4 linked regions of the Homo sapiens genome follow. The protein of the gene in region 1 interacts with the protein of each later gene in a biochemical or structural test. Each region holds a gene or a part of one and is shown on either strand. Other genes may lie near its edges. The genes, in order: DCN, COL6A1, TGFB2 and FAM20B.

Region 1 (7,027 bases):
GCAGAAATGAAAGCAAACACCACACATGGATGCCTTTCTTACAAGCATTGTGTAGTTAATCAAGTCTATAGGAAAGGACATTTTTTGTTTTTGCACTTACTCTTCCCAGTTCTTGGAGTGCTTTCTCCAACCTCTCTGAGCCTGGACAAAGTCCATTTATTGTTAAGGTCTCGGCTCAAAGTTACTGTCTTTGAGATTCATCTGACAGAACGTGATTGGACATAGTCTCCTATTCCTTATAATATCCTAAGTTCCAACATCAAATTATGGTCAACCATAATATTGGAACATAATATTCCTAATAGTTTATTTTTAAAAACTGTTCACTTATTCAAACATTTATTTGTATATTTAATAAACAAATATTCTTGAAAACTTATGTGCATGATATTATGCTAGGCATTGTGAGGGACAGAGGTCTCATGGATCAAAAACCACTTTTCCCATCAAAGAATATTTTACCTAGTAAAGGAGTTGATTATACACACACACATGCATATATATATATATACACATTCAAAGATATATTTTATATTTATTTATCCACCATGAAATTTATATATAACAACAGGAATGAGTAAATCTGGCATGATAGTGTGCTTCTCTGTAGGGACAGTCAGCAATATGTACAGATCAAAAAGAACATAGTGTTCCTTGAAGACAAGTGAAAACGTTTGCCAGATTGAAGTTATGTTTGAAACCAGGACAAGTACTAGTATCACTTATTTTAAAAAAAATCATTAAGAAGGGCCAGCAAAAACAACAACAACAAAAGCTTTTCTTTTGTTGATCTACATTAAATGCCCAGAGATATTTTATTTTAAACTTTTCAGAGAAGAGGGGGTTAGAGAATCTCATAATTATTAAAATAGTAATTTGTGTGATGCTCAATATTTCTCTGTCTTGGTAGATTTCATTTTAATGGATTTTCAAATTCTAGCAACTGTGTTATAATTTACTTAACTTTCTGTTTGATGCAAATAAGTTAGAACATATTAAATGCACATATTGATTTAATCACACACTTTGTGTATAAAATATAACTAATCTATAAACAGTATAGTATTAATAAAATATGAAGCTGATCTTGGTGGTTTTAGTAAGGGCACTATTTCATTGGCTTCTTCTCAAGAAATAATTGGATATGCTGAAGTTTGAGATTATAGAAACAACAACAGCAGTGAAATGTAGTACACTCAAAAATCAATCATCATGTTTATAATTCTTATCATATAAGCACTAATATACCTAGCCATTGTTCTGATAGAATGTCATGAAAGAATATTATTACTTAGCCAAATTATTCAGTCCTTTCAGGCTAGCTGCATCAACTCTGCTGATTTTGTTGCCATCAAGATGTAATTCCGTAAGGGAAGGAGGAAGACCTGGAATGTGGAATTAAAGATGTTAAATTAGCAGATAAACATTATAAGTACAGAATGTGGACAAACTTAAAGAAGACATATGCCATCAATTTTCTAAAAGACACACAGTTTCAAAGAATCAGCTTTACTTTTATCTTTTTTTTTCATCCCTTTTATAATAATGTGTGCTTTTGGAAGTAGTGGAAGCCCTTGCTATTTTTCTCTTAGGTTGACTTTAACAAAAACCTGGATGATTTCTATCATGTAGTCAATTTTTGTTCTTGGAATAGAAGAACTGAAGTCAACGCTGAGTCTCATTATTCTCTTCCACCTTTGTTAATGGGCTAAAACTGACGTTGATAAAAGATAGTAATTATAAAGTGGGAAAGTCACTATTCGAACCATAATGAAGAGATTACGTATAAATTAAACCCATGTACAAACTTAATTGTCTATTTCATTAATGAGCATCATTAAAAATTAACACTGATATACTGTGCTGGTCTTAGCCTTAATTGACTTTTCCATAAAAGCATCAAATACCTCTGCAAAATGTCTGTGTAGAAACAGCTAACATTTACTTATGCCTATTAAATCCAGAATGTTTATGCAGAAGGAGTGGAGAGGTCTATAATCAAGTGATCTGCCATATGTGGAGCACCTGGGGTAATAATTTTACATCCAAAGTACCCACTAAACCTCTAGATAGTACTTGCATGGCTGTGATTTCCAAAGATCGAGTATTATAAATATAAAAGTTTAAATATTTTATTTTCATTTCCTCCTAGCATCTGAGGCTGTATTATATTTTATACAGCTTTTAAAATAACATATTGTTCCACTTAATAGCAATAGATACAGAGAAAATAGCAAATTGGTTAAGTGTAGAAAGAACATCTGATTGGCAGAAAGTCTTGGCTATTTGTCTATAAAGACACAGAATTGAAAAACCACAGGTTTCATTTTGTCTAAAATTTTTATCACATCACACTGAATTCTGTCAATATTGTCCATTTAATAAAATAGTTTAGTCCATATTTGACTTGAAAATGATTCTTAGTTTCCTATGGTAGCATATTTTGTGTTAGAGCTGCTAGGAAAAGGAACATCTATTTATTGTATGTCTGTTACGCACCGAACATTGACCTTGGCACTTTTCCTACTTCAAATCCTTTAAGCCTCTCAAAACATAAATTATTGGTCACTAATCCCTTTTCACAGTTAAATAAATAAGACTCAAAGTTACAAAGTAATTACAAAGTAATGCAAAATGTATATTTTTTAATGCAGTGCCTCCAGTACACCAATTGCTATCACAACCATCGGCCTTACTTAGTTTCAAAGTGTCTCCCTTTTTGGGATGTCAGTTTCCCAAATGTAAAGTTATAGCTAAGAAGAAGTTTGACTATGGGAGAAAACCTTGCAATAGGTTTGAGATAGACAAATTTGTAAAGTGCATCATTAGCTTCTGCAACTGTGGCATTGAGTTAAAGAACCCATACTCCAGTTATTTTATTTATTTGTTTGTTCATTTATTTTAAATTTTCTTTTTTCTTTTCCTTTTTTAAGATAAAATATATTGAGGTTTACATTGGGCCAAGTACTTGCGTGTACAATACAAGCCTTACTTCTATAGAGTAATCCTCACAATAATCCTAGTAGACAGGGTTATTAATAGCTCCATGTAACATCTAACAAACCTGAGGTTATAGAAATGCAGAATAATTATCCTAAAGTCACAGTACAACTAAATGACTGAGTTAGGTCTCTCACCCAGGTTGATCTAAGTGTATGATTTTTATAGTCTCTACACTACTTTCTACTGCCTTTCCATTTCCATGAGTGATGGGAGAAAATATCACCAGGAGGTTGCTGATATTCAGGCATAGGTATCCCAGCCTAAGCAAGGTGGAATCATGTATTAGATAAGCATAACGATGAATAGAAAGGAGGACTTAATATGCCAACAGAGTGAAATAGTTAAACACACGAGTTCTGACATCAGCACCACACAATTCCATCTCTGCCGCTTCCTAGCTCTAAGAACTTAATTACAATTTTCTTTACCTGTTTAAGCCTCATTTTCCACTTTTATGAAACAGGAATTATAACCCTACTATATAGGGACGTTGTAAGAATCATATAGAAGACTCCATGACAAGCATTTGGCATGATACCCGGAACTAAATACATGCTTAATAAATTGTAGTTACTTAACTTTTCTATTAAGCGGTAGTAAATAAAAGCAAGCTATAAATGATGAGGAAAGAATACCTGGGATAGATAGAAGACATAGCAAAGTAAAGGAAAAGAGATCATGAAATGATAAAAGGTATCAGTGAAGGATATTTTGGAGCATGCATTAAGAGGGACAGCAAAGTCTGAGATTGTGCTAAATGTAAGTCATCTGGCTGCATGAAATAAATTTCAGCAAGAATTTTAATAAGATCTATCTATCTATCTATCTATCTATCTATCTATCTATATCAATCCCCAATTTATATCTATCTGAGATATAAATATTTCATTCCTGCACTGGGGATAGCAAAAGATTACTTGTTACATGCAAAAAATTGGAGACTCAACATGAAAGTGCTTTATGAATTATAAATCAGTCTTTATCATCTATGTATCTATCTATGCCAGTAGTTGCTACTAAGGAAGTCAAAAGCATGCTCTGTATTCAAAAGACTAGGAGGAGGGCAAGGGGTGGTAAGAAAGCATCCTATGGAATATGTACTCTCAGGAGTTGAAATTTCTGTAAAAGAACAATAAAGGACAACTGGTGTTTTCTGTGGCCAAATGTCTACATTTTGTACGCACTCAAGAACAAGGCATCTAAGTTGAGAAAGGGACAGACTGAGGGGAAAACTAGATAATATAGAGGGCTTCTGTGAGACTGAAAAACCCAGAGTAGGGACGATGTGCAAGTTAGAGGAATTTATTATTGGTGGTTTGATGCCTTTTGTAATTCACAAAGACTGGCTTTTGTGCCTCTCCTGGGAATCCCTTGGAACAATGAACTTACCCTTGTGGCTATGTGGTCATTGCTGTGTATTTGTCTGGCTTGGTTTTAGAGAGTAAGCTCCTAAAGGCATGTAGCATATCCTGTTCCCTGCCCTGTCTTAAGTGTTTGGTACATCGCCTACACATACTGATTGTTCAGAACATTTTTAATGCATAATAGAGAGTTATATTAATTCCCTACTTATCTATATGCTAAATATTTCTCTAATTATTTATTTAACTTTAAAACAACTCAATGAAGTGGATAGCAGTATTATTTCCACTTGACAGATAAAGAGATAGAGGACAAATGAATAACTTTTTCAAAGTCTTTGAACCACTTTATGGTAATTTGGGCTCAAGCAAACTGACTCCAAAATCTACACTCTTCACAACACACAACTACCACTATCATTCAGATATTAATAACTGGAGTGTCTTAAAAAGGAAAAAAAAATTCCCTAAGCTATTGCAGACTCAAGATAAAAATTGGATCAATTTCAGAGGTACTCCCATATATCTTTTTTTTTTTTTTTACAAACACCAAGGCATGCTATTTTTTAAATAAATGTACTTTTTCTTTGTGATTTTACAATATTATAAAATCACTGTGCATTAAGTTGTGTCTTAAACTAGACATTAACAGGAGTCTACCCATCTCTACAGTGAGCCTGGATGGCCCCGTGGTCATCCAGACTGAATCACTGGATATAACACTAGCAGTAATAGAGAATTTGCTGGAAATATAAACACTGGATGAAACACTAGCAGTAATAGAGAATTTGCTGGAAATAAGGTTGGCCTCTTAGGTGACAATTCCAGTTTCCACAAGATTTTTTTTTTTTAATTAAAGCCTTTGAATTTAAATTTTTCAAAATGTTTTGGAGAATCTTCTATCACCTTGAGGAATGCTGGTGATATTGGTATCAGCAATGCGGATGTAGGAGAGCTTCTTCATTCCCTGGAAAGCCCCATTTTCAATTCCTGAGCTCTTCAGCGGATTGGTGCCCAGTTCTACAAATGTAATAAGTGCAAGGCTTTTAGAGGAAATTTTAGGATATTACTAGTCACTGTAGTATCTGTTTCAGCAAGCAACCTATAAAGAAATAGGGATTAATATCAACTTGACTAAAAAACAAAAGTGAAGTTAAAGAGCATGCTCCTCAGGAGAATAGCAAAATAGGATAAAAATTTCCCTTATTAAAACAAAAGCCAAACAGACAATGACTTATGAATAATAATGACTTATGAAAAAGACTATTAGTGAAAGCAATACCAATAAAATTATTTAAGATGCATACACAGGTTTGCCCAGAAATCAACTAAAGCAAGTTTACAATTCCCATCTTACGTTATTTATTATTTTCCTAAGGTATTTTAAAATTTTGTTAAAGAATTTCAATCTAGCATTTTATAAGCCAATAATAAAATTACAATTTTTACTATATGTTTAGAGAAATTTTTTTTTTTTTGAGACGTAGTCTCACTCTGTCACCCAGGCTGGAGTGCAGTGGGGCCATCTCGGCTCACTGCAAGCTCCGCCTCCCGGGTTCACGCCATTCTCCTGCCTCAGCCTCCCGAGTAGCTGGTACTACAGGCCCCCACCACCACGCCCGGCTAATTTTTTGTATTTTTAGTAGAGATGGGGTTTCACCATGTTAGCCAGGATGGTCTCGATCTCCTGACCTCGTGATCCGCCTGCTTCGGCCTCCCAAAGTGCTGGGATTACAGGCATGAGCCACCGCGCCCAGCCATAACATATTTTTAAAGCAAATGATTTATGAGTGTTTAGAATACAACAGGTCCCCAAAACGGAAAGGTATCTCAAAATATCTGTAGTTAAGCACTATTTAAACTCATCTTTGCATATTGTGTGTGTGGTAGGGTAACTTCAGCCCTAGGGTTTTCTCCATATTCTCAGATACTCAAGGACATACATAAAAACATCACTGTAAGGTCCAGATTCAAAATCCCAATTTCTCTTGGCCCTGTTCTTATAAATCACATAGGCTCCAGGCATGTAGCTTGTAGCTAATTTACCTTCCTGCACTTAAAACCCAGTTGAAATCTCTTAAGATAAAAACTTGAGTTTTGGTCTTAAAGTTATAAAAATGTCTGTACCTATGACAATCATCTGGTTCAGTCCATTGAAAGTAACTTTTCGCACTTTGGTGATCTCATTCTCATGGGCACGCAGCTCCTGAAGAGTTTTGGGCATTTTTTCTGGCAATTCCTTCAGCTGATTCTTGGACAGATAAAGTCGTTCCAACTTCACCAAAGGTGTAAATGCTCCAGGACTAACTTTGCTAATTTTATTGTTGACAAGAATCAATGCCTGTAGATAGTGAAGAAAAACATCTCTTTAAATCCAAAACCTTCCACATACATGTAAAACAAGGGCATGTTTGTTCATTCCATTCATAGGGATAGCAGAGAAATCTAAAAAATTGCAAGAAATCAGAAAAAAATTAAGTAAGTATTATTTCTTTACTTAAGAAGTGTATAGGCCAGGTGCGGTGGCTCATGCCTGTAATCCCAGCACTTTGGGAGGCTGAGGTGGGAGGATCACTTGAGGCCAGGAGTTCGAGACAAGCCTGGCCAGCATGGCGAAATCCCGTCTGTATCAAAAATACAAAAATTAGCTGGGCGTGGTGGTG
Region 2 (7,027 bases), on another chromosome or scaffold:
GGCAGGATTTGGTTCCCATTAGAGAAGGCACAGCTTTGCCAGGCTGGCAAATTGGCAAACTCAAATCTAGGGCCTGGAGGGTAATCTGGGAACTTGAAGATGAGATTTGGAAACCGTCTGCTGGGTTCTAGGAGCTCGTCTGGGAATGTTTGGGGTGGGGTCAGCATTCGCCTTTGTCTTCCCCAACACTTCAGCTTCAACAAAGAAACTCCAGAGAAAACACCAGCAACGGCAGACTCAGCTGTCAGACGAAAAAGCTCCTTCTCCCGCCTCGTGCTCCCGCCCTCCCGCTGCCCACTCGCCCTCCCACCCGCTCACCACCCTCCTCCCGCCCCCGCTCACCACCCTCCCGCCCACTCGCCACCCTCAGTGCCACCCAGCCCATTCTCAGTTCTGAGAGCCATTCTGGGCTGCGGCTCGCAGGCTAGGAGTGACGCGGTGGGGTCCCATCTGTGCCGAGCGAGCGGCAGGTGCGGGGGACAGAATGGCGGAGGCCTGAAGGCCCTCGGGCTGCAGGGAAGGCTCTGGGCGGGAGCGCCACGGCCACTGTCCCCACGGTGGGCACTGTCCCCGCTGCTCCTCTGCCTGCCTCCAGCCTCCACCAGCTCCTCCCCTCTGAGGCCGCACGGGTGGCCGACATGCTCGGACCAGGACTTGCTTCCAGGAGAGGTTTCCAATTCAGCGCTTGGCCAACCGTGAAGGCCCTGGTCCTCCAGGGGCCGCAAGTCACTCACCTTTTCTCCTTTCAGTCCAAAGGCACCGGGGTCTCCCTTGGGGCCAGGGGGTCCTTGAATGCCCTGGAGAAAAGAGGGCAGCATGACACCACCGGCAGAGGCCACCGCGGCCTCTGGCAGCAGCCCCAGACCGCCCAGACAGAAGTCAAAACGGTCCACACGAGGTGCTGCTGACAGCGCTAGTTTTAAAGTATCAGTGAGAGGAAGTGACTTACGTCAAACCCGGGCGAGCCCTTGCAGCCTGGCAGGCCTGGGTACCCCATCTCCCCCTGGAAAGAGGAAGAAAACTAGAAAATCTGACGGCCAAGTGGGTAAACTGAGGCCAATCAACTGTCAGACTTGGTGCCCTCCATGCCCTCCACACCCTCCCTGGAAAGCCCTGCCTAGCAGACACCCCCCTGGGGTCACCTTCACACCGTCCACCCCACTCCTCCCTGTCCCTCCTGCCGGGATCACCTCACCCCATCCCTCCCCGTCCCTCCCCGTCCTTCCCCTGGTCACCTTCACACTGTCCACCCCATCCCTCCCCGGGTCACCTTCACGCCGTCCACTCCGTCCCTCCCCATCTCGCCCCATTCCTCCTCGTCCCTCCCCGTCCATCCTATCTCCCCCCAGTCACCTTCACGCCGTCCACCCCGTCGATGCCACGCTTGCCCTTCTCTCCCTGTGAGGCGGGAAAACGAAGGCAGGAGTCAGATGCAGGTCAGACATGCTGCCGTGGGGGCAGAACTCCCCCCTCCCAGCAGCCCACGCTCACCTTGTAGCCCTTGGGTCCCCTGGAGCCCTGCGGAGACAGGAAGCGGGTGTGAGGGGGTATTTGGGGTGGGGAGGGCAGGGCAAGCCTGGCTTAGGCCCACGCGAGGCAGGGGCTTGGGTGCCCCCAACCCGAGGGGACAACATCACTGCTGAGAATCATGGGGACTGACAGTGATGGGGAGGGGCCGCTCTGCAGAGGGTAACCGCCCGGGGGACCCCCGGCTCCGCAGAGGGTAACCGCCCGGGGGACCCCCGGCTCCGCAGAGGGTAACCGCCCGGGGGACCCCTGCTCTGGGGTGGGGTGAAAGTGACACAGGCGCCTTTGCTGGGTGCCTGGGTGGCTGTCCTTGTCCTTCCAGATGGAGGGGACGGCGAGGGGCGGTGGAGCGGGTCTGCAGGACACGTGGTCTCCTGTCAGGGACACTGTCCTCATCCCCGGGGACACCCTCGTCCAGGATGGCACATCTGCGCCTGGAGAGACCAGCTCCGAGGTCGAGCCTCACTCACCTTCTCCCCACGGCTCCCTTTTTCTCCCTACACACCCAGCGGAAGAAGAGGAAGAGGAAGGCTTGTTAGTGCTGTGCAAGGCTGAGGGCACCACCGGGCTCGGGCCAGGAAAGGGGGGGCACGTACCTTCATTCCCTGGTACCCAACAGGTCCGAGGTCCCCGGGTCTTCCCTGGAACACAGGAGGAGATGGTGAGACACCCCCGGAGGAGCAGGGGCAGGGGCCAGTCCCACCCAGCCCCACACCCCTCCCTCCAGCCCAGGCCTGGTCAGGCCGAGAGAGGGGCCCTGCTGCACGGGGCCCATGGTGCCGAGGCCCTCCAAGGTGGAGCTGGGGGAGGGAAGTCTATGGATAGGATTTGGGCCAAGGAGCCACGGCAGGGGCCCCGGACGGTGCCGGCCTGAGCACCCTGGGCCACCTCCCCACCCAGCCCCTCCCTGGCAGGGGGGCTTACGGGCTGCCTGGGGGGCTGTGTGGAAGGATGGCTGGGCTGTGGCCCCTCCAGGTCTGCTCCCACCCACAAGGAACAGGCAGTGTGACTTTGGCACTCAGAACCCAGCCACTCTTCCGGAAGTTTCCGAGGCCTAGTCGTTCCCCGCCTCCAGCTTCTTAGGGCCCCCACCCCACAGTCAGGCACTCACAGGATCTCCGGCTTCTCCCTTCTCTCCTGGGAGCCCCGGCTTGCCTCGTTCTCCCTGGAACACAAAACAGGTCAAGGTTGGGGCAGCCCCGTTTCTTTCTAAAAAGCTGGCTCACGAAACAGGTTTTTAAAAAGACGCTTCATCCAGCCTTCAGGGATCAAGGGCTTTAAAGCACCTTCCCCATCACATCTGGTCAGCCTGGGTCTGGGAGCTCCAACCCGCACGCCAGCTCCCCCCACTCCCTGCCTTCGTTCCTGTCTGCTCGGCTTTGCTGACCCCCAGGCACAGGTGGGAGGGACGTGCAGCACAGAAGCCCCCCAGGGTCACAGCTCGACCCCCAGGAAATGGCCATGGGACTCGGGCCCACAGCTGCTGGGTTTGATGGTTTTTAGGAGAAGCCAGAAATCTGAGGTCCATGAGCAGCCTCATGGCAAGTTTTAATTATCAGCAGCTAATTCTAACGTTTAAGGTCATCCTATGTGAGCCACACAGAAGCAGGGGACCCACATTCTCACCCTCCTACCTCCAGAAAGGTCCTTCTGAACAGAGTGCGGCTGAGGGCAGGGCGGACAGAGACACCCTCAGAAGCCCCCAGCGCCCCCGGGACAGTCCACACCCTGCACGGCCGGAGCCTGCCTGCTGGACCCCGCCGTCCCTTCCATCTGGACCCCGACATCCCCTCCATCTGGACCCCGCCGTCCCCTCCATCTGGAGCCCCGACGTCCCCTCCATCTGGACCCCGCCGTCCCCTCCATCTGGACCACGCCGTCCCCTCCATCTGGACTCCCGCCGTCCCCTCCATCTGGACCCCGCCGTCCCCTCCATCTGGACCCCGCCGTCCCCTCCATCTGGACCCCGCCGTCCCCTCCATCTGGACCCCGCCGTCCCCTCCATCTGGACCCCGCCGTCCCCTCCATCTGGACCCCCGCCGTCCCCTCCATCTGGAGCCCCGACGTCCCCTCCATCTGGACCCCGCCGTCCCCTCCATCTGGACCACGCCGTCCCCTCCATCTGGACTCCCGCCGTCCCCTCCATCTGGAGCCCCGACGTCCCCTCCATCTGGACCCCGCCGTCCCCTCCATCTGGACCCCGCCGTCCCCTCCATCTGGACCCCGCCGTCCCCTCCATCTGGACTCCCGCCGTCCCCTCCATCTGGAGCCCCGACGTCCCCTCCATCTGGACCCCGCCGTCCCCTCCATCTGGACCCCGCCGTCCCCTCCATCTGGACCCCGCCATCCCCTCCATCTGGACCCCGCCGTCCCCTCCATCTGGACCCCGCCGTCCCCTCCATCTGGACCCCGCCATCCCCTCCATCTGGACTCCCGCCGTCCCCTCCATCTGGACCCCCGCCGTCCCCTCCATCTGGACCCCCGCCGTCCCCTCTGGATCCTCATGGTGGACTTGGGTGCCCAGGAGGCTTTGGTCCTGCCACCCCCACTCCCAGGCCCCACAACACATGGGAGGAGCAGGAGTCACCACTCACCTCAAAGCCGGGGTCGCCCCGGAGCCCCGGAGGTCCTCTTGCAGGCTGCAAGGCAGAGGGGACGGTCAGCCAGGACCCCAGACTCAGGTTCCCAGGGTGCAGGGCGCGGGGTCAGGGGTCGGGGGGCACACTCACCTGGCATTCGAAGGAGCAGCACTGTGGGGGGAAAGCATGGAGACGAGTCAGTGGGAAAGCCACGGACATACGGCTGGGACACAGGGTGACATGCGACCCAGGCACATGGGCAGACGGACACACGGATGGACGCACAGGCGGACACATGTCCCAGGCACATGGGCAGACACACAGGTGGACACGCAGGGGGACACACATCCCGGGCACACGGGCAGACACGCAGGGGACATGTGTCCCGGGCACATGGGCGGATATGCATAGGGACATGCGTCCTGAACACACAGGTGGACGTGTGGGTGGACGTGTGCAGACTCACGGCTGGGGGTGGTGGGGAGGGCTCTTACCACTTGCTCCACGTTATTTTTCTGGAAAGAGAAATGGAAACGCAGAATTACTTTCCACCTGCGGCCGCCGCGGGCCTCCCCGTCTCCTGGGCAGGGGCCTCACGATCATGTCCACGATGGTGTCGATGGTCTGGCTGATGGCCTCCTCTGCGTCGCGGCTCTGGCCCCAGTCAGCCGCCGTGAAGTTGCGCCGGTACGTGTGGTCCGTGGCGATGATGCTCAGACGCGGCTCCTGGGGGCAGTGTTCAGGGTGGGCTGAGCAGGGCTGGGACCCCTGACGGCCGGGGCCGCTTCCCACAGGGCCAGAGGGGAGGCTGGGCTGGGGCGCTCCAGGCTCCTCAGCAGGAGGGGCTGGCCTCTCAGGGGCAAGGGTGGCCGGCTGGAGAACCCACACCCTCCCGAGGACCAAAAGACGGTCCCAGCTGCCGGGGGCCTTGCAGCCGCCACTCCCTGTGGTTGGGGGCATCTGCCGGGGGGGGCCGGTGCCTACCAGGTGGTCGGGTGTGATGGCCACCGAGAAGACTTTGACGCCCAGGTGCTTGGCCTCGTTCACAGCATCCTCCAGCCCCCCACAGGGTTCCTTGTAGCCCTCCAGGGGGTGCCCGTCGGTCACCACAATCAGGTACTTATTCTCCTTCAGGTGGGAGCCCCTGGACAGGAGAGGGCAGCGTGAGACCTCGAGACTAGGTGGGGGAACTGGAGGGAGACCCAAGCCTGTCCGGGAGGTGCTGGTCCCTGTCTCACCGGGAGGAGCCGCCTCTCTTTGCTGATCCTGGCTATACGGTGGGGGTTACTGAAAAGAACCTCACCATGGGAAATAACGCCTGTGGGTCTCATTTCTCTAAACTGCTTTGGAAAATCCACGCCCTCCCAGGAGAGGCACCCATGACCCCAAAGGAGGCTCGGTTCCTGGGGTGCCCTGGGGCGCAAAGCCCCTGACCAGTGAGTGGAGGCTGAGGGTGGCAGGGAGCGTGCCCCTCCGAGATGCCCGCCGCGTCTACCCACAAGCTGCCTCAACTCAAGGCTGCTCGGTCACCGTGGCTCTTGCAGGAAATGGGTGTGATGAGCAAACAACAGGGCGATCCCTGAATGCCCCAAATCCAACCCCCCGAAAGGGAAAGTGGGAGCAGCAGGAAGGAGGGCAGTATCGCAGGGCAGTCGGGCAGCCTGCTGGGGACGCTGAGCATCTCGGCCAGAAGGGCGAGCTCATTTAGGGGAGTCGTGTCTGTCTGTGGCTTCCACAGGGGGCCGCACTCTGACGTGTGTGGCCACATCCCCCATGCACCCCCTGCAGACAGCGGACGACTTCCTGAGACTCCAAGTCCCCCAGGTCCCAGCTTGGCACCAACTCTGGAGGGAAGTGGGCACAACCATTGGAAAGGGAATGTCCGGCCCACACCGGCCATGTGGCCCTCTGAGACCGACCTCGGGGAGAGGCTCTCCCCAAACCCCCCGCACCGCCTGGCTGGACAGGGCAGCCTCGGGTACCCCCACTGGGATCCTGAGGCCTCGTGAAGGGCTGGGTGTGGGGAGGCCACGTTCCCCTCTGGACACTCCGGGGCTTGCGGCCCCTGCGTCCCCACAGCTGGACACTGGGATGAGAGGAAACCCCTCAGTCCAGAAAAACCCCGAGAAAGCGCATGCTTCGGGTCTGATGAGTCTGTTTCAGTGATCCTAGCCCTGCTTGGTGTTGATGCTGTGGGGAAAACCACCCCGTCTCTCTCAGTCTCTCAGTCTCTCTGCCTCTGTTTCCGGTCTCTCTGTCTCTGTCTGTCCCTGTCTCTCTGTCTGTCTCTGTCTGTGCTTCTCTCTCTGTCTCTCTGCCTCTGTCTTTGTCTCTCTCTCTCTGCTTCTATCTCTCTGTCTCCCTCTCTGTCTCTATCTCTCTGTCTCTGTCCCTCTGTCTCTATCTCTCTATTTCTGTCTCTGTCTCTGTCCCTGTCTCTGCTTCTCTCTGTCTCTCTGCCTCTGTCTGTCTCTGCTTCTCTCTGTCTCTCTGTCTCTGTATGTTTCTGTCTCTGTTTCGCTGTCTCTGTCTCTGTCTCTCTGTCTGCCTGTCTCTGCCCCTCTGTCTCTGTCTCTCTGTCTCTGTTTCTGTCTCTGTCTCTGTCTGTCTCTGACTGTCTTTGTTTCTCTGTCTCTGCTTCTCTCTGCCTCTGTCTTTTTCTATCTGTCTCTGTCTCTCTCTGTTTCCCTCTGTCTCTCTCTCTTTCTGTCTCTGTCCCTGTTTCTGTCTCTCTGTCTCTGTTTGTCTGTCTCTGTCTCTGTCTCTCTGTCTCTCTCTGCCTGTCTCTGTCCCTCTGTCTCTGTTTCTGTCTCTGTCTCTCTCTGTCTCTGTCTGCCTGTCTCTGTTCCCGTCTCTGTCTCTCTGTGTCTCTCTCTGTGTCTCTGTCTCTGTCTCTGTTTGTCTCTGTCTGCCTGTCTTGG
Region 3 (7,027 bases), on another chromosome or scaffold:
TTAATGGGTCTGTCCAGCTCCAAAGTCATCATGCTCATTGTATATCATCTTGCCTTCCCAAATAAATTAATTCTCTGAAATAGGAATGCCCTATCAATAAAATTTATCAAAATTTTTGTGAGGAAAATGATTGCAGTTCAAAAACAAAACCAAGGCTGGGCACGGTGGCTCGGGCCTATAATCCCAGCACTTTGGGAGACCGAGGCGGATGGATCACTTGAGATCAGTTCGAGACCAGCCTGACCAACATGGTGAAACCCCATCTTGACTAAAAACACAAAAATTAGCTGGGCGTGGTGGCACATGCTTGTAATCCCAGCTAGTTGGGAGGCTGAGGCAGGAGAATTGCTTGGACCCGGGAGCCAGAGGTTGCAGTAAGCTGAGATGGTGCCACTGCACTCCAGCCTGGACAACAGAGCAAGGCTCTGTCTCACAAACAAACAAACAGAAACAACCAAAGTCTTAATAAATCACACTTTTTGTATCAATTAAGTGCAGAAATAAAAGTTGAATGTGTTAAGAGGCAAGAAAAAAAAACCCAGGTTGTGTGCTTCAGAGGTATATTTTCTCAGTGCTTGTGAATGTAATTCTTGTTAACAGAGGAGAGCCACCATTCTTCCATGGATGTATTACATCATTTATCAAGAAGGCAAGAAAGGTCATGCTCTCTATTTCCTGGGCTCTGTATTAGGGCTCCTATTACCTGTGGTGGCTGAAAGTCTAATTTCCATAACACATCACTAATAGAAATAGCTATTTCCATTTCCTCAGCTGTCAAAGGGACAGTATGAGTATTAACCTCATAGGATTGCTTGTGAGTATTAAAGAGTACATATATGTAAAATATTTAAAACTATGCTTGGTTTATAAGTCTTCAATAAAGGTTAGCTATGCTTGGCCTGTAAAAAGTCCTCAATAAAGGTTAGCTTTAATCATCATTATCACCACCTTCATTATTATCTGAGAATTGGAAACAGAAAATATTATGGTTATGAGAATCCCTGTGCTCTTTAGCATAGTGACATGACCCATCAGACACATTTTCCCTGATAATGAAGGTCAGAACATTTCATCTCTCCGCATCTCCTGGCCCTGACACCTCTTTGAACTCACAGATTCTTCTTCTTCCTGTAGTTCAATCTCATTCTGTAAAGGGAATGCTCATCCATTTGTCAAACATTCCTTGATCAAACACAATATGCTAAGTTCTATAAGAATATAGATAAGTTAGACTTGATTTCTGTTCCTGGGGCAGTCTACAAACCAATGAAGAAGACAGCCCAGAACAGAGTTAGATCTTACTAAGATCAAAAGAAAAGAGGGAGAGATAGAGATAACCATCAGTATAGTAAGAGTGCAAAGGAAGAGCTAATTAAATAAGACTAGGACAATCAAGGAAGGTTTTCTAAGGAGGTGGCATCTGACTAAGCCCAGAAATATTTTGTTTTATTTTGTTATGTTTAGAGACAGGGTCACGCTCTGTTGCCCAGGCTGGAGGACAGCGGGGCAGTCATAGCTCACTGCAGCCTCAAACTCCTAGGCTCAAGCAATCCTCCTGCTTCAGCCGCCCAAGTAGCTAGGACTACAGGCACATACCACCAGGCCCAACTAAATTCTCTGTAGAGACAAGATCTTGCTATGTTGCCCAGGCTGGTCTTCAACTCCTGCCCTCAAGTGATCCTCCCGCCTCAGCTTCCTAAAGTGCTAAGATTATAGGCGTGGGCCACCACACCAGGCAGAAGGATTTTTAAAGGTGTGAAAAGATAGATCTCTATGTAGAAGAAACAGCATAAACAAAGACCCCAGAGGCATGAAAATAAATGGCCCATTTGGGTAAAGGCAAAGAGGACAATGTGACTGGAGTATAGTTTTCATGCAGGGATTTAGTGAGAGGAGGGGCTGAGCAAGGAGGAGGGACCAGACCCTGAAAGGCCTGAATCTAATTGCCTAAACTCTCAGGCCTTCTCATAGGAGAACTGGATAGTGCCAGACATGGTGAATTACCAACCCTATGTTCTCTGTTTCCAGCCCCATCCCATCCCTGCCCTGAAGTGTCAGAGGCCACCTAAGGAACAAACTGAGTGAGCAAAGGAAAGAGATCCACTGAGTGGAACTATCGCAAAGGAAAAGAATGAGCTGGAGGTTCCAAGACATCCGAGGTTAATGGAAGTGGTTCCTGGGGTATCGCTCATAATCACATTTTCATCTCCCTAAAATCCAGACCCTCTCTTAAAATCAATGGCATGATCACTGAAGTGATATTTTTTTCTTAGTGGCACATAAAATAATGGTATACCCTGAAGTCAAAGGCATTTGAGACTCAGAGAATTGCTGCCAGGCAAAGAAGACCTACTCCATGCCAGAGCAGCTGCACTAGGTGCTTCTTCACATATGTCATCATCAATCCTTACAACCCTAGAAGGCCAGTGTTACTTTCTTCATCTTTACAAGGGAAGAAACTGAGGCCTGGTTAAGTAAAGGGGGTGCTGTCTCCCACAAACTCAGTAGAGTATCAAATGGGACATGATATGTGAGCACTCGACCATCCATCCATGCAGACATTCCATCACAATGAAGGAAAAGAAGGCAATTTAGAGATGGTAGGGAAGAGGCCAAGGGGCAGTTTCATTCAGAGTCAAGACCACCAAGCCAATTCAGGAAGTAAGGTAGTGGTGAGAGTGTGGGGCACTTAAACACCCACTTCTGGATATCAGCGCTTAGAAAAGAAACAAAACAGCCAACCATCAAAAGCAGCTTGTGGTTGTAGCATGATGCAAATTTATTCCAAACAAATGACAGAAGCAAACTTTTCAGTCTAAACAAACCCATCAAAGAATCCCCTAACATATTATTAAATCTAAAATAAAATACCTGGAGAACGTTGAATTCCCAGGTTAAAAACTATCATTGTTTAAAGGATATTTTTTAAAATGAAAGCACACATATGCCTTCAAAATGACAATGGGCATTTGTTTATCTCGGGCAGAGCCACATTTCATCAAGCTGTGCAGAATCTGCAAAATGGAATCCACCCTTGAGCAGAAGCGCTGCCTAAATAGAGCAAGCACATCTGGCAAATCCAAATCCTCTCTCCGGGAGCCCATCAGTACCGGAAATGCTACATCAAGATAGCGGAAGGGGCTATTTCCAGAGCTCTTCCATGCAGTCTCTTGCTCGGCTGCTCACCTTACTCCTGAACCTATAATGGGGCGGGGTGGGGTGGGGGTGCTGTGGGCAAGGGGCAGGGGGAGGCGGGCTGGAGTGGCAGTGGGCCAGAGTCCCACTCCAGTGGTGACCCTGCACACCTCTCCCAGGGCCAGGAGCCTCCACTCTAATTTCTCGAACCTTCTAAATATGCAGCCTAAAGTGTGTTGTAATCTCTGGGCGAAGGCCTACAAGTCAGTGAACTCCTTGGTTCTAACCCAGATTTGATGTGGGTTCAACAGTGAGTCATTAGCCCTTTTTTCACATCTCAGTTTCCTCTAGGAAAAACGATCTGTCATTCTTTCATATCTTTATATGAAAGATGCTGCGACTAGGTTACATCACCATCTTTTCACCAGGGAGAAATCATTCAAAAAGTGCAACTCCTCGAGTAGACCACAGGGGTTGCTGTGGAGACGCAGTGGGCTCCCCCAACCCCTTCCTTCTGTGAGGTGGAGAGGTCCCCACCTGCCCCTCAACCTCTGCAAAGCCCCTCTTTCATCGGGTGGGGTCTCCTCAGGAGAGGCATAAAGCTGGCTGGCCTCACTTGGCAACAAAGACGACCCAACTGCTTTCGTTATAAATAGTATACTTCTTTGAGAGGTTTTTCTAGTCTTTGAAAAGTAAAAAAAAGAGGAAATCCTGAAGGAGGAGCATGTGACCTAACTTAAATGTAACCACAATTAGACACTAGAGTTAGTACAAGCAACGATGCAATAAAAAAGGGAGAATTAAAGTTTGGTCTGTTGTATATTAATAACTCAATCATTCTGGAAGTCAAGAAGTTCAAGTCTGTCTTTGATACGCTCTCTTTTTCTTTCTGTTTCTATCTCATACACCCACATGCAAACACACACATAGAGAATCCTAAAAAATAAAATAGTAAAAATGCTTACTACATAAAGCAAAAATACCACTACGTTCCAGCAATCGCTAACATTTTCCTTCATTGGGCAAGTGGCCAACAGACCAGCAACTTGTATATAGAAAGACATATTCATGAATTGAATGCTAAGTCACATTCCCCAAAACCATAGTGTCATTGGTATTCATTCTACATTCCACAATTTAACTTGGAAAATTACAGAGGAAATAGAAAAGGAGATTGCTTCATGTTAAATGTTTAACACTCATGTGAAACAACTACAAAGGGAATCTCATTGTGATTTTTCAGGCTGTATATTTTTAGTGTATCTACTTCAAAATGGTAGAATAAATCAAGATGATTATTTACTTTCTTCCATTGCCTAGCTTGGAGATTCCACTCTTTGTTAACACAAACTGCTTATTTCCCTTGCAAGGGGAATCCATGATAATTCCTCACTTCTTTTTTCTCTGTTCTAACATCACACTGCTGCTGACTGAAGCTAGTAATGGATAGGTCAACACCATCACTTAAGCTAAATAAATGGGAAGTTTTGATGTCTCTAATTTAGGGGCTTTAAGACCACAAAAAATAAAGTACATACTGTATACAATGGTCTAATCCACACTCCATTTAATTAAGATAACTGTCTGACTATCCTCCTATTCAGTATTCTCATTTGAATATGCTTTGATCATAAAGATATTTTATTTTTGTTATTATTTTCTAAATGGTACTGTTAACAGAATTCAGTAACCCCCAACAAATACCAGGGCTCCTCAACAGAGGCATTACTGACATTGTGGTCAGGATAATTCTTTGATGTTGGGAATGGGGGGTTGCCCTATGCATTATAGGATGGTTAGAAACATCCCTGGCTGACCCACTAAATACCGGTAGCACCCCTCCACCTCCAGTCATGACAACCCAAAGTGTCTCTGGACATTGCCAAACGTTCCAGTGGGAGTAGGGGTGCGGGTGTTGGGGGGAGTACAAAATCACCAGGGTTAGAACCACAACATGTGCTGATTGGTTACAATGAAAAAGGGAGAGAAAAGAAAGAAAATGAAACGTTGTGTCTCTTCCTCTTTTTGATTGTCGGACTCTCTACAGATTCTTACATGTCAATTATTTGAATTCTTCCTGTGTATAACTGAATCACCCTTTCTAAGTTTCTAAAACCTTGTGCAGCATCTTTCGAATAGATGTGCCTCGAACTTCAAATGGATTGTTAAACTACTAGAGGTCCACTAATTCCCAGTGGGCAAACTATCGGTAAACCTTAGCATAACTCCACTTCGAGTCTTAAACTAACAGCACGTGAAAAGATCAATATGAATAAATTCAAAACTAATCAGACCCCTTCTTTAAATGTTGACACAGTATTATTTATATCCCATAAATACATTCTTGACTAAAATTCATCCTAGGAGATTGGCACCTGGCCAGTTCTATTCATATTTACTGTATTTATATAGTATACTTGGCCAAGGATAATATTTAAGACAAAATATGCCTCAGGGCATATACAATATCTCTTATATTTTTACTTTTAAATCTCCACATTGCTAAAAATATGTAGTCTGAACTTTATAAAATGTCCCACAAAGGGCTATCAGCAATCTGTAATGATATATAGCTCATTGAGTATAATTAGAGCATATTTGTAATACTTGAGCTGAAGTCACTCCCTGAACGCTAATAAGTTGATGGTAAAAAATGAACCAGTGATCTTTCCCATGGCTTCATCTCTGGGGCTTATGACCCTCGCCAGATTCACTGCAAGGAATGACAGGCACACTCCCTCCCCACAGCCACTTCAGTGACAGCTGAGTTAAAAGTTAGGCAGAAAAGTCCTAAAGAGGGAAAGCTGGTATATAAGCCAATGCTGTACTTTCAATTTGCTTTTTAAAAATATGGTTTTTTTCTTTTTTTCCTTTTTTTTGGAAGGGTTTGCTATATTCCAGTATAACTAAAAAGTGCTGGAAAATCAGTTAACCTATTTTCTATAAAATTATCCAGTCCTTGCACAGTAGTATCGAACCTGCTATTAATATGGCTTTCTGCTCCTAAACTTCCATACAGAATACAGACTTTTTAAAGCCTGTATTCTTTGTATGAAAACTGGCAGTATATTTTATTTATCTTGGACGTATCGGAGGTTTTCATTTATTTGGTGGCTGGGGTGAAATGGAAAGGAGAATCCACACATTGATGTTAAATGCCATACTCTGAAATCCTCCTAATAATCTAGGAATTTTTCCAGTTTGTTGATGACCATGACCCTGGGTTGGATCATCTCAGCTCTTCAGACTGAAGTGTGCTTCAGAGAACAAAGAACTAATGCCCTCTTGGGTTACTTGCTCTCTCCACACCTATTCAGTAAATGGGATCAGAGCTCCTTTCTGTGTTATAGAAGTGCTGGCAGTTTATTAGACCTTTTGCATATAAACATTGAAAGATGAGTTATTCAGGTTCTACATAACATACTTTCCGCTCTGCCCAAATACCGGTAGAACCGATGCACATGCTAGAGAAAGCAAACTGACTGAACTCCTTGTTTGTCTCAATGGTTTTGGACTAATTACAATGAACTTTCTTTCCTAATATCTCCTTGGCTCCACCCCAGATAGAAAGCTTTACTTCCCAAAGGGGATAACCAGGGGTGGAGTGTATTTATCACCGCTGTTGCGGATAGTGCCATAATTACAATAATAAAATCATCCTGCTTGCCAGAATTCTCTGCATCTGTTCTGCTATTGAACAAGAACAGGAGAAACTGCAGCAAAATAAGGGTCACTAGGAAGACTGGGGTTAGATACATGGGCTGACTTCTGAGACCATCAAGTACAAGACATGGCAGGTCACATAGCTAGGACTTGTCAAACTAAAAATAAATATTAAAAAAGAAAAGCACCACCCTGCAACTAGAACCTTTAAGAGAAAATTACCAAGATG
Region 4 (7,027 bases), on another chromosome or scaffold:
AACAGTATCAAGGTAGAGTCTTTTAAGAGGTCGTTAGGCCATGAGTGCTCTGCCCTCATGGGTGGAACTAATGCTGTTATTAAAAGGCAAGTTCAAGGCCAGGAGCGGTGGCTCACATCTGTAATCCCAACACTTTGGGAGGCCGAGGTGGGCCCTCAGGTTGGGAGTTCAAGACCAGGCTGGCCAACATGGTAAAACCCCGTCTCTACTAAAAATACAAAAATTAGCTGGGCGTGGTGGCAGGTGCCTGTAATCCCAGCTACTTGGGAGGCTGAGGCACAAGAATCACTTGAACCCGGGAGGTGGAGGTTGCAGTGAGCCAAGATTGTGCCACTGCACTCCAGCCTGGGCAAAAGAGCAAGACTCCATCTCAAAAAAAAAAAAAAAAAAAAAAAAAAAGGCGAGTTCAGCCCCTTGTTGCCCTCTCTCTTTGCCCTTTTGCCTTCTGCCATGTGACATGATGACACAGCAATAAGTCCCTTGTCAGATGCTGGCACCTTGATATTTAACGTTCTAGCCTCCAGAACTGTGAACCAATAAATTTCTGTTCATTATAAATTACACAGTCTGGCCAGGTATGGTGGCTCATGCCTGTAATCCCAGCACTCTGGGAGGCCCAAGGGGTCAGATCACTTGAGGTCAGGAGTTCGAGACCAGCCTAGGCAACATGGTGAAACCCCATCTCTCCTAAAAATACAAAAATTACCCGGGCATGGTGGTACATGCCTGTAATCCCAGCTACTTGGGAGGCTGAGACATGAGAATCACTTGAACCTGGGAGGCGGAGGTTGCAGTGAGCCAAGATCGCGCCACTGCACTCCAGCCTGGGCAACAGAGCGAGACTCCATCTCAAAATAAGATAAAATAAAATAAAATAAATTACCCAGTCTGTGGTATCCTGTTACAGCAGCACAAAACGAACTAAGACACCAACTATAGCATATCTTTTATTTAAAATCTGAGAAGAAAAGTTCTTAGCTCTCTGTGGGTAAAGGAGGAATTACTGGGTATGCAGAAATGTCTGATTCTGTAAAAGGCAGCCTGTTGTGCAGCAATTTAAAAGGTAAGAAAGACTGCTGCATAAAGCATGCATGGAAGGGACAAACAGGCACAGACGGAGTACAGTTATTTTTATTCTTAAATATATTACAAATGCCCAGAGCATCAGAGCTTCCTCTGTGAGACTAAGTTATTATGTTACTTCCTCTCAGCTCCAAATTCACTCTTCAAAATATGCTCTGCTGGCCAGGCACGGTGGCTCATGCCTGTAATCCCAGCACTTTGGGAGGCCAAGGCGGACGGATCACCTGAGGTCAGGAGTTCGAGACCAGCCCCACCAACATGTTGAAACCCTATCTCTACTAAAAATACAAAAAATTAGCTGGGCGTGGTGGCAGGTGCCTGTAATCCCAGCTACTCAGAAGGCTGAGGCAGGAGAATCGCCTGAACCCGGGAGACAGCGGTTGCAGTGAGCCGAGATCGTGCCACTACACTCCAGCCTGGGCGACAGAGCGAGACTCCATCTCAAAAAACAAAACAAAACAAAAACAAAAACAAAATGTGCTCTGCTACGACGGATGGGATTCCTTTAAGCATCTTTCCCCTAAAGCATTCTCACTAGAGGGCGCAAAGGGGACACTGCAGGGTGAAGGGGCTCTCCAAATGCTTCTGTGGGTCAATGGTGGTGTTGGGGAGGCAGAGAGGTCATCCACTGAAGACCTGTCTAGCCACACTCCCAGAAGGTGTGGGTCCTTGGTGACCTGAAGCCTTAGCCTGGCCTGGGGATAACTCTCCCGAGGCCCTCTCAACATGGAAACCAGAGCTTTGAAGGCCATCTGCTCACCCTGGCCCCAATTCCCTCTGAAGGCCCACGTGTGTGCCTCACTTGCAGCACAGAAGGTTTCTACTGGATTCTCTCTCTCCTTCTGCATGTCATGACACCAGCTGTGGCTTGAATGTACACCCCACCTGCACTCTGGAGAGTTGCTTCTGGCTTGCTCAGCACCTGCAAACTAGCAAACTTCTCTGCTATCTGGTGGGCTGAGCTAAACCTTCTCCACTGAAGTCCAAACTCCAGTCATTGGGAGGGGATCCCCTTCCAAGTTTGTCCTTCCTTGGGTACTCTCCCTCAGCCCTTTTATAGTCACTCCTGTTATTGGAATTTAATAATTCTTTATATTGGGTCGGGCGCAGTGGCTCACGCCTGTAATGCCAGTAGTTTGGGAGGCCGAGGCAGGCAGATCACAAGGTCAGGAGTTCTAGACCAGCCTGGCCAATATGGTGAAACCCCGTCTCTACTAAAAATACAAAAATTAACCAGATGCAGTGAGGGGCGCCTGTAATCCCAACTACTTGGGAGGCTGACGCAGGAGAATCACTTGAACATGGGAGGTGGAGGCTGCAGTGAGCCGAGATCGCGCCACTGTACTCTAGCCTGGGTGACAGAGCAAGACTCCATCTCCAAAAAAAAAAAATTCTTTATATTAAACACCTCTGTTTATCACACTATGTCTTTGCTATCTCCTGATTGAACCAGACTGATAAAACTACTACCACAAAAACATCTTCAAAGACAAACACACAATTCTTGATTGTATATATCACTGCTTCCTATCATTAATAAAGACAATGAAGGACAGCCTGGGTAAACTGTTACTTTCTACAGAATTTTGTTGTCATTTAAAAAAAGAAAGAAGATTAAGAGACCAGTTGCTATGGCAGTCTTATGTGATATGATGTTGCTGGGAGCTGACCAGTATTAAATGGTGCTCTTGAACTTGTTTTTCTGTGTAGCCAAGCAAGGTGGATCCCAGCTAATTCTTGATGTGCGTGCTCTAAAATTACACCAGGATGGTCGGGCGCGGTGGCTCACGCCTGTAATCCTAGCACTTTGGGAGGCTGAGGCAGGCGGATCACTTGAAGTCAATAGTTTGACACCAGCCTGGCCAACATAGTGAAACCCGTCTCTACTGCAAATACAAAAATTAGCTGGGTTTGGTGGCAGGTGCCTGTAGTCCCAGCTACTCGGGAGGCTGAGGCACAAGAATTGCTTAAACCCGAAAGGCAGAGATTTCGGTGAGCTGAGATCGCACCACCACACTCCTACCTGGGTGACAGATGCAGACCCTGTCTCAAAAAAATAATAAAATAAAAAATAAAATAGTAAAATAAAATTATTTCAGGAATGATGAAAAGAAGCTTCTTAGAGCTTAGACTTTATCTCATTTTCTTGACTCATTTTTCAATTTCTCTGTTCTCTAATACAGAGTTTTTTTAAAAAAACCAATTATTATTTATTATTTATTTTTTTTGAGACAGAGTCTCACTCTGTCACCCAGAATGGAGTGCAATGGCACAATCTCGGCTCACTGCAACCTCTGCCTTCCAGGTTCAAGCAATTCTCCTGTCTCAACCTCCTAAGTAGCTGGAATACTGGTGCCTGCCACCATGCCCGGCTCATTTTTGTATTATTAATAGAGACGGGGTTTCGCCATGTTGGCCAGGCTGGTCTCGAACTCCTGACCTCAGGTGATCCACCCACCTTGGCCTCCCAAATTGCTGGGATTACAGGAGTGAGCCACTGTGCCTGGCCAAAATAAATTATTATTTATGGAAAAAGTTACTTTTGGTTTAGACAATTTCAAACTGAAATATGTAAACCCCAGGTGGTATGTGATGGGTGAGTGAGAGGAGTTAAAACCACAAGGTAACCAGGTGTAGTAACCAGGCATACAGATTTTACTCCTTTTTTTTTTTTTGGCAGTGGGGTGGGGAGTGTGGGTGATTATATTCTGCTATTAAACCAAACATGTATTACTGTATACATACAATCTTCTATTCATACAAAATTTGAGATGAATTCTGAGCTTTGGGTTATCTGCCTTCACCTTTCCCTGATATCCCATTTCAGGATGTCCAGAGGTTCTAGGTTGGAAAAGTATGAAAAGCACTGCTCAGGTATCAGAAAGTTTGAGGGCCAAGAAAATGGATGTACTGTTACCTGAGCCTGGAAAAGAAGGCAATGCAGGCACATGTATTTGCTGTGCATAACTTACATGCAACACTGATAGAGAGGGGCAAGAATGCTTCTTTCATCCAGCGAGGGGTTCCCAAAGCTGAAAATTAAATTAAAACTTAGTGAATTAGGTGGAAGTACTGTTCTCTTCTTAGCATCAAAGCAATAGCAAATTCTATATGAAACTCAAATGTGATCCTAGATAATTTCACGCTCCAGCAGCTCAAATCACTTAAATTGAAAACAAGCGGGGCATGACCAATTAGACACAGGATCCCTAACAGCCTGTACTAAAATATCTGACAACAAATATACTCATTTACAAGGGACATTTTCCTGCCAAGATATCACAAGGTGCTGGAGCATAACTATGGTAAACACAGTGCGGAGTTCACAGACCAAAGGGAGAACTTGAAGACCCCTAAGCCTGCAAAGGTTTTAAGGACCAGAGAGAAATAAAAGCCATTTATATTAGATTCCCACAAACAAGCAGATGACCATTACTTGTAAAAAGAAGTCACACTTATTCTACTCCCAAATTAGCAATATCCTATTCCCTACAAGTAAGTATAAGTACAGATTCAAATTGGAAAAACTGTTCACACAGGCTGAGGAAACTGATTCACAGCAGATGCAAAAATTACCTTAGCAGCAATTCAGAGTTAGAAAAGGAGAACTGATTCTGGAAAACTGTCAACCTTTCAATCTTTCCAGAGGCTCACCTTAATAGCTAGAGTCTGGTAGCCCTTAGTACAGTGTAGGTCCTCCAGTAATTCAAGGCAAAGGCAACTGCTATGGTCTGAATGTTTGTGTCCCCCTCAAATTCGTAATCCCTGGTACAACAGTCCAACAGTATTAAGAAGTAGGGCCTTTGGGAGATGATTAAGTTACGAGGGAAGAGCCCACATGAACGGGATTAGTGCCCTTATAAATGAGGCCAGAGGGAGCGTGTTTACCTCTTCTGCCATATGAGGACACATAGAAGGCACCATCTGAGAAACAGGCCCTCACCAGACACTGAATCTGCTGGCACCTTCATCTTAGAGTTCCCAGCCTCCAAAACTGTAAGCAATACATTTCTGATGCTTATGAATTACCCAGTCTAAGGGATTTTGTTATAGCGGCCCGAGTGGACAAAGCAACTATTTTGATATACACCAAATATCAAGTATCATGTGTATCACAGGATGAGTGCTATGTGCTTTGCTGTAATGGGGTAGAGGGAGAGGCAGTGTTTGCTGGTTTTTCATTTTCTGTGGCCATCACCATCTTTCACAAAGCATGAGGCGCCTGGTGTTCAGTATAAGATGGTGGCATCATTAGCAAATGCTGCCCAAGCACTCTTTGCTGAGGAGCCATGTCTTAGCTTATTTCCAACAACCAATGTTAACAGTAGTGACCTAGGGCCTGGAAAATTCTGTACTCCAAGGAAGCGTTCTATTTAGTAAATATTTATTAAATGCAACTAAAAGTGTGGCACTACACCTGTAATCCCAGCACTTTGAGAGGTCGAGGCAAGCAGAGCACTTGAGGTCAGGAGTTCAAGACCAGCCTGGCCAAAATGGCGAAACCCTGTCTCTACTAAAAATACAAAATTAGCGAGTGCCTGTAGTCCCAGCTACTCAGGAGGCTGAGGGTGGAGAATCGCTTGAACCCAGGAGACAGAAGTTGCAGTGAGCTGAGATTGTGCCACTGCACTCCAGCCTGGGCAACAGAGCAAAACTCCGTCTCAAAAAAACTTAAAAAAAAAAAGTGTGGCACTAAACCGGCCACCACAGAGAATGCAGAATATGAAATGGAAATACAATGTGCTCTCCAAATAGCTCAGGCCTAAAAAAATAAGGACATTCTATTTATTCAAAATGAATAAACATTTTTTATTCAAGATAAAAGTAACTTGTTGTTATATATAAAATCCACACTAGGCAACAGCTCTTCTTCCCATGACAGCAAAAGTATGGACCTAGACAAACACAAAAATAGCAAAACATCCTACCAAATAAATTAATTTTTTAATTGCAGGAACCTTTGGATAGAATAAATTTAACGACAAATTCCACACTCTATTACATCTGTATTTCTCAAGCTTCTAAACACCAAATATCATAGCCAAGAAAGAACGATGTAGGTAGTAACAAATGAATAACCCTGGTTTTCCAGTTGTCTGAGAAGAGGCTCATAGAGTCTTAGACTCCTTGGAAGAACCACTTTTCCATTTTTTGAAGTACTGAGATCCCTGAGAGTGGAGAGAAGGACAGGTACCAATAGCAAAGACTCCAAGTGGAAAAAAGAAGGATGTTGCCTATCAATTGCATTCTGGATATTCTCCAGGATGCTCTGGAAAATGCCCTTCTTTCATATACAGAAACCCCTCCCTGACAAGGACAGTCCTGCTGGTCTCACCTTTTGGCATTATCAAGAAGGATGAGCATACTAGCGCCTTCATCATCTTGAAAGCTCTCATAGTGATGGCGGTCAGCATTGCCAATCAGGTAATCAAAGACAGCTGTGTCAATGATGTCCAAGAGGCGCGGGCCAGAGTCATAAGGGGACGTTTTCTTCACAGCATCACAGTAGCTCTCATCATACTCCCACCTGGAGACAAGCAGCATCACAGCACTGAGTGACAACACTGTACCTGGCACTGTTACACACAAAGAGAAGACAGAGTTCCTACCTACCGGTTTGCCCCTGACTCCACAGTTCTTTTCACTCTTGGACAGAACTGCTGGCTCCTTTACAGAGTTGGCACCTGGCTAGGCACAGGGGAGAATTAAGTAATGGCTCATAGGAGCATTTACCTGGCCAATTTGCCTTCTCGGTAAGTCCTGCCCCATGGGTGACGGTGCTTCTGCAGAGGCCACACATCTGGAAGCCAAAGTGTGACAGATCCCTCCATTATGTCTCCATCAGCACAAGCTGGTTCTGTTTCTCGGCAGTAATAGCACTTCCCATAAAAACAAGTATTGTTTCCTAAAGGACAGAAAGGAGCCAAATACACTTAAGGAAATA

Evidence for each region.
Region 2: the proteins of DCN (region 1) and COL6A1 form a complex in vitro, tested with the Homo sapiens proteins (one study listed by BioGRID).
Region 3: the proteins of DCN (region 1) and TGFB2 form a complex in vitro, tested with the Homo sapiens proteins (one study listed by BioGRID).
Region 4: of the proteins of DCN (region 1) and FAM20B, one has a biochemical effect on the other in vitro, tested with the Homo sapiens proteins (one study listed by IntAct).

Annotation. Positions count from the first base shown.
Region 1 is NC_000012.12:91,151,805-91,158,831, forward strand, and holds part of DCN (decorin isoform a preproprotein), read right to left. Parts: intron 6,706-7,027; coding exon 6,492-6,705; intron 5,385-6,491; coding exon 5,271-5,384; intron 1,386-5,270; coding exon 1,292-1,385; intron 1-1,291. UniProt on the Homo sapiens protein: May affect the rate of fibrils formation.
Region 2 is NC_000021.9:45,984,749-45,991,775, reverse strand, and holds part of COL6A1 (collagen alpha-1(VI) chain precursor), read right to left. Parts: intron 5,251-7,027; coding exon 5,091-5,250; intron 4,833-5,090; coding exon 4,704-4,832; intron 4,622-4,703; coding exon 4,601-4,621; intron 4,278-4,600; coding exon 4,257-4,277; intron 4,167-4,256; coding exon 4,122-4,166; intron 2,693-4,121; coding exon 2,639-2,692; intron 2,169-2,638; coding exon 2,124-2,168; intron 2,025-2,123; coding exon 1,998-2,024; intron 1,519-1,997; coding exon 1,492-1,518; intron 1,399-1,491; coding exon 1,354-1,398; intron 1,004-1,353; coding exon 950-1,003; intron 798-949; coding exon 735-797; intron 1-734. UniProt on the Homo sapiens protein: Collagen VI acts as a cell-binding protein.
Region 3 is NC_000001.11:218,348,326-218,355,352, reverse strand, and holds part of TGFB2 (transforming growth factor beta-2 proprotein isoform 2 preproprotein), read right to left. Parts: intron 1-7,027.
Region 4 is NC_000001.11:179,063,888-179,070,914, reverse strand, and holds part of FAM20B (glycosaminoglycan xylosylkinase), read right to left. Parts: intron 6,989-7,027; coding exon 6,817-6,988; intron 6,611-6,816; coding exon 6,419-6,610; intron 4,116-6,418; coding exon 4,056-4,115; intron 1-4,055. UniProt on the Homo sapiens protein: Responsible for the 2-O-phosphorylation of xylose in the glycosaminoglycan-protein linkage region of proteoglycans thereby regulating the amount of mature GAG chains.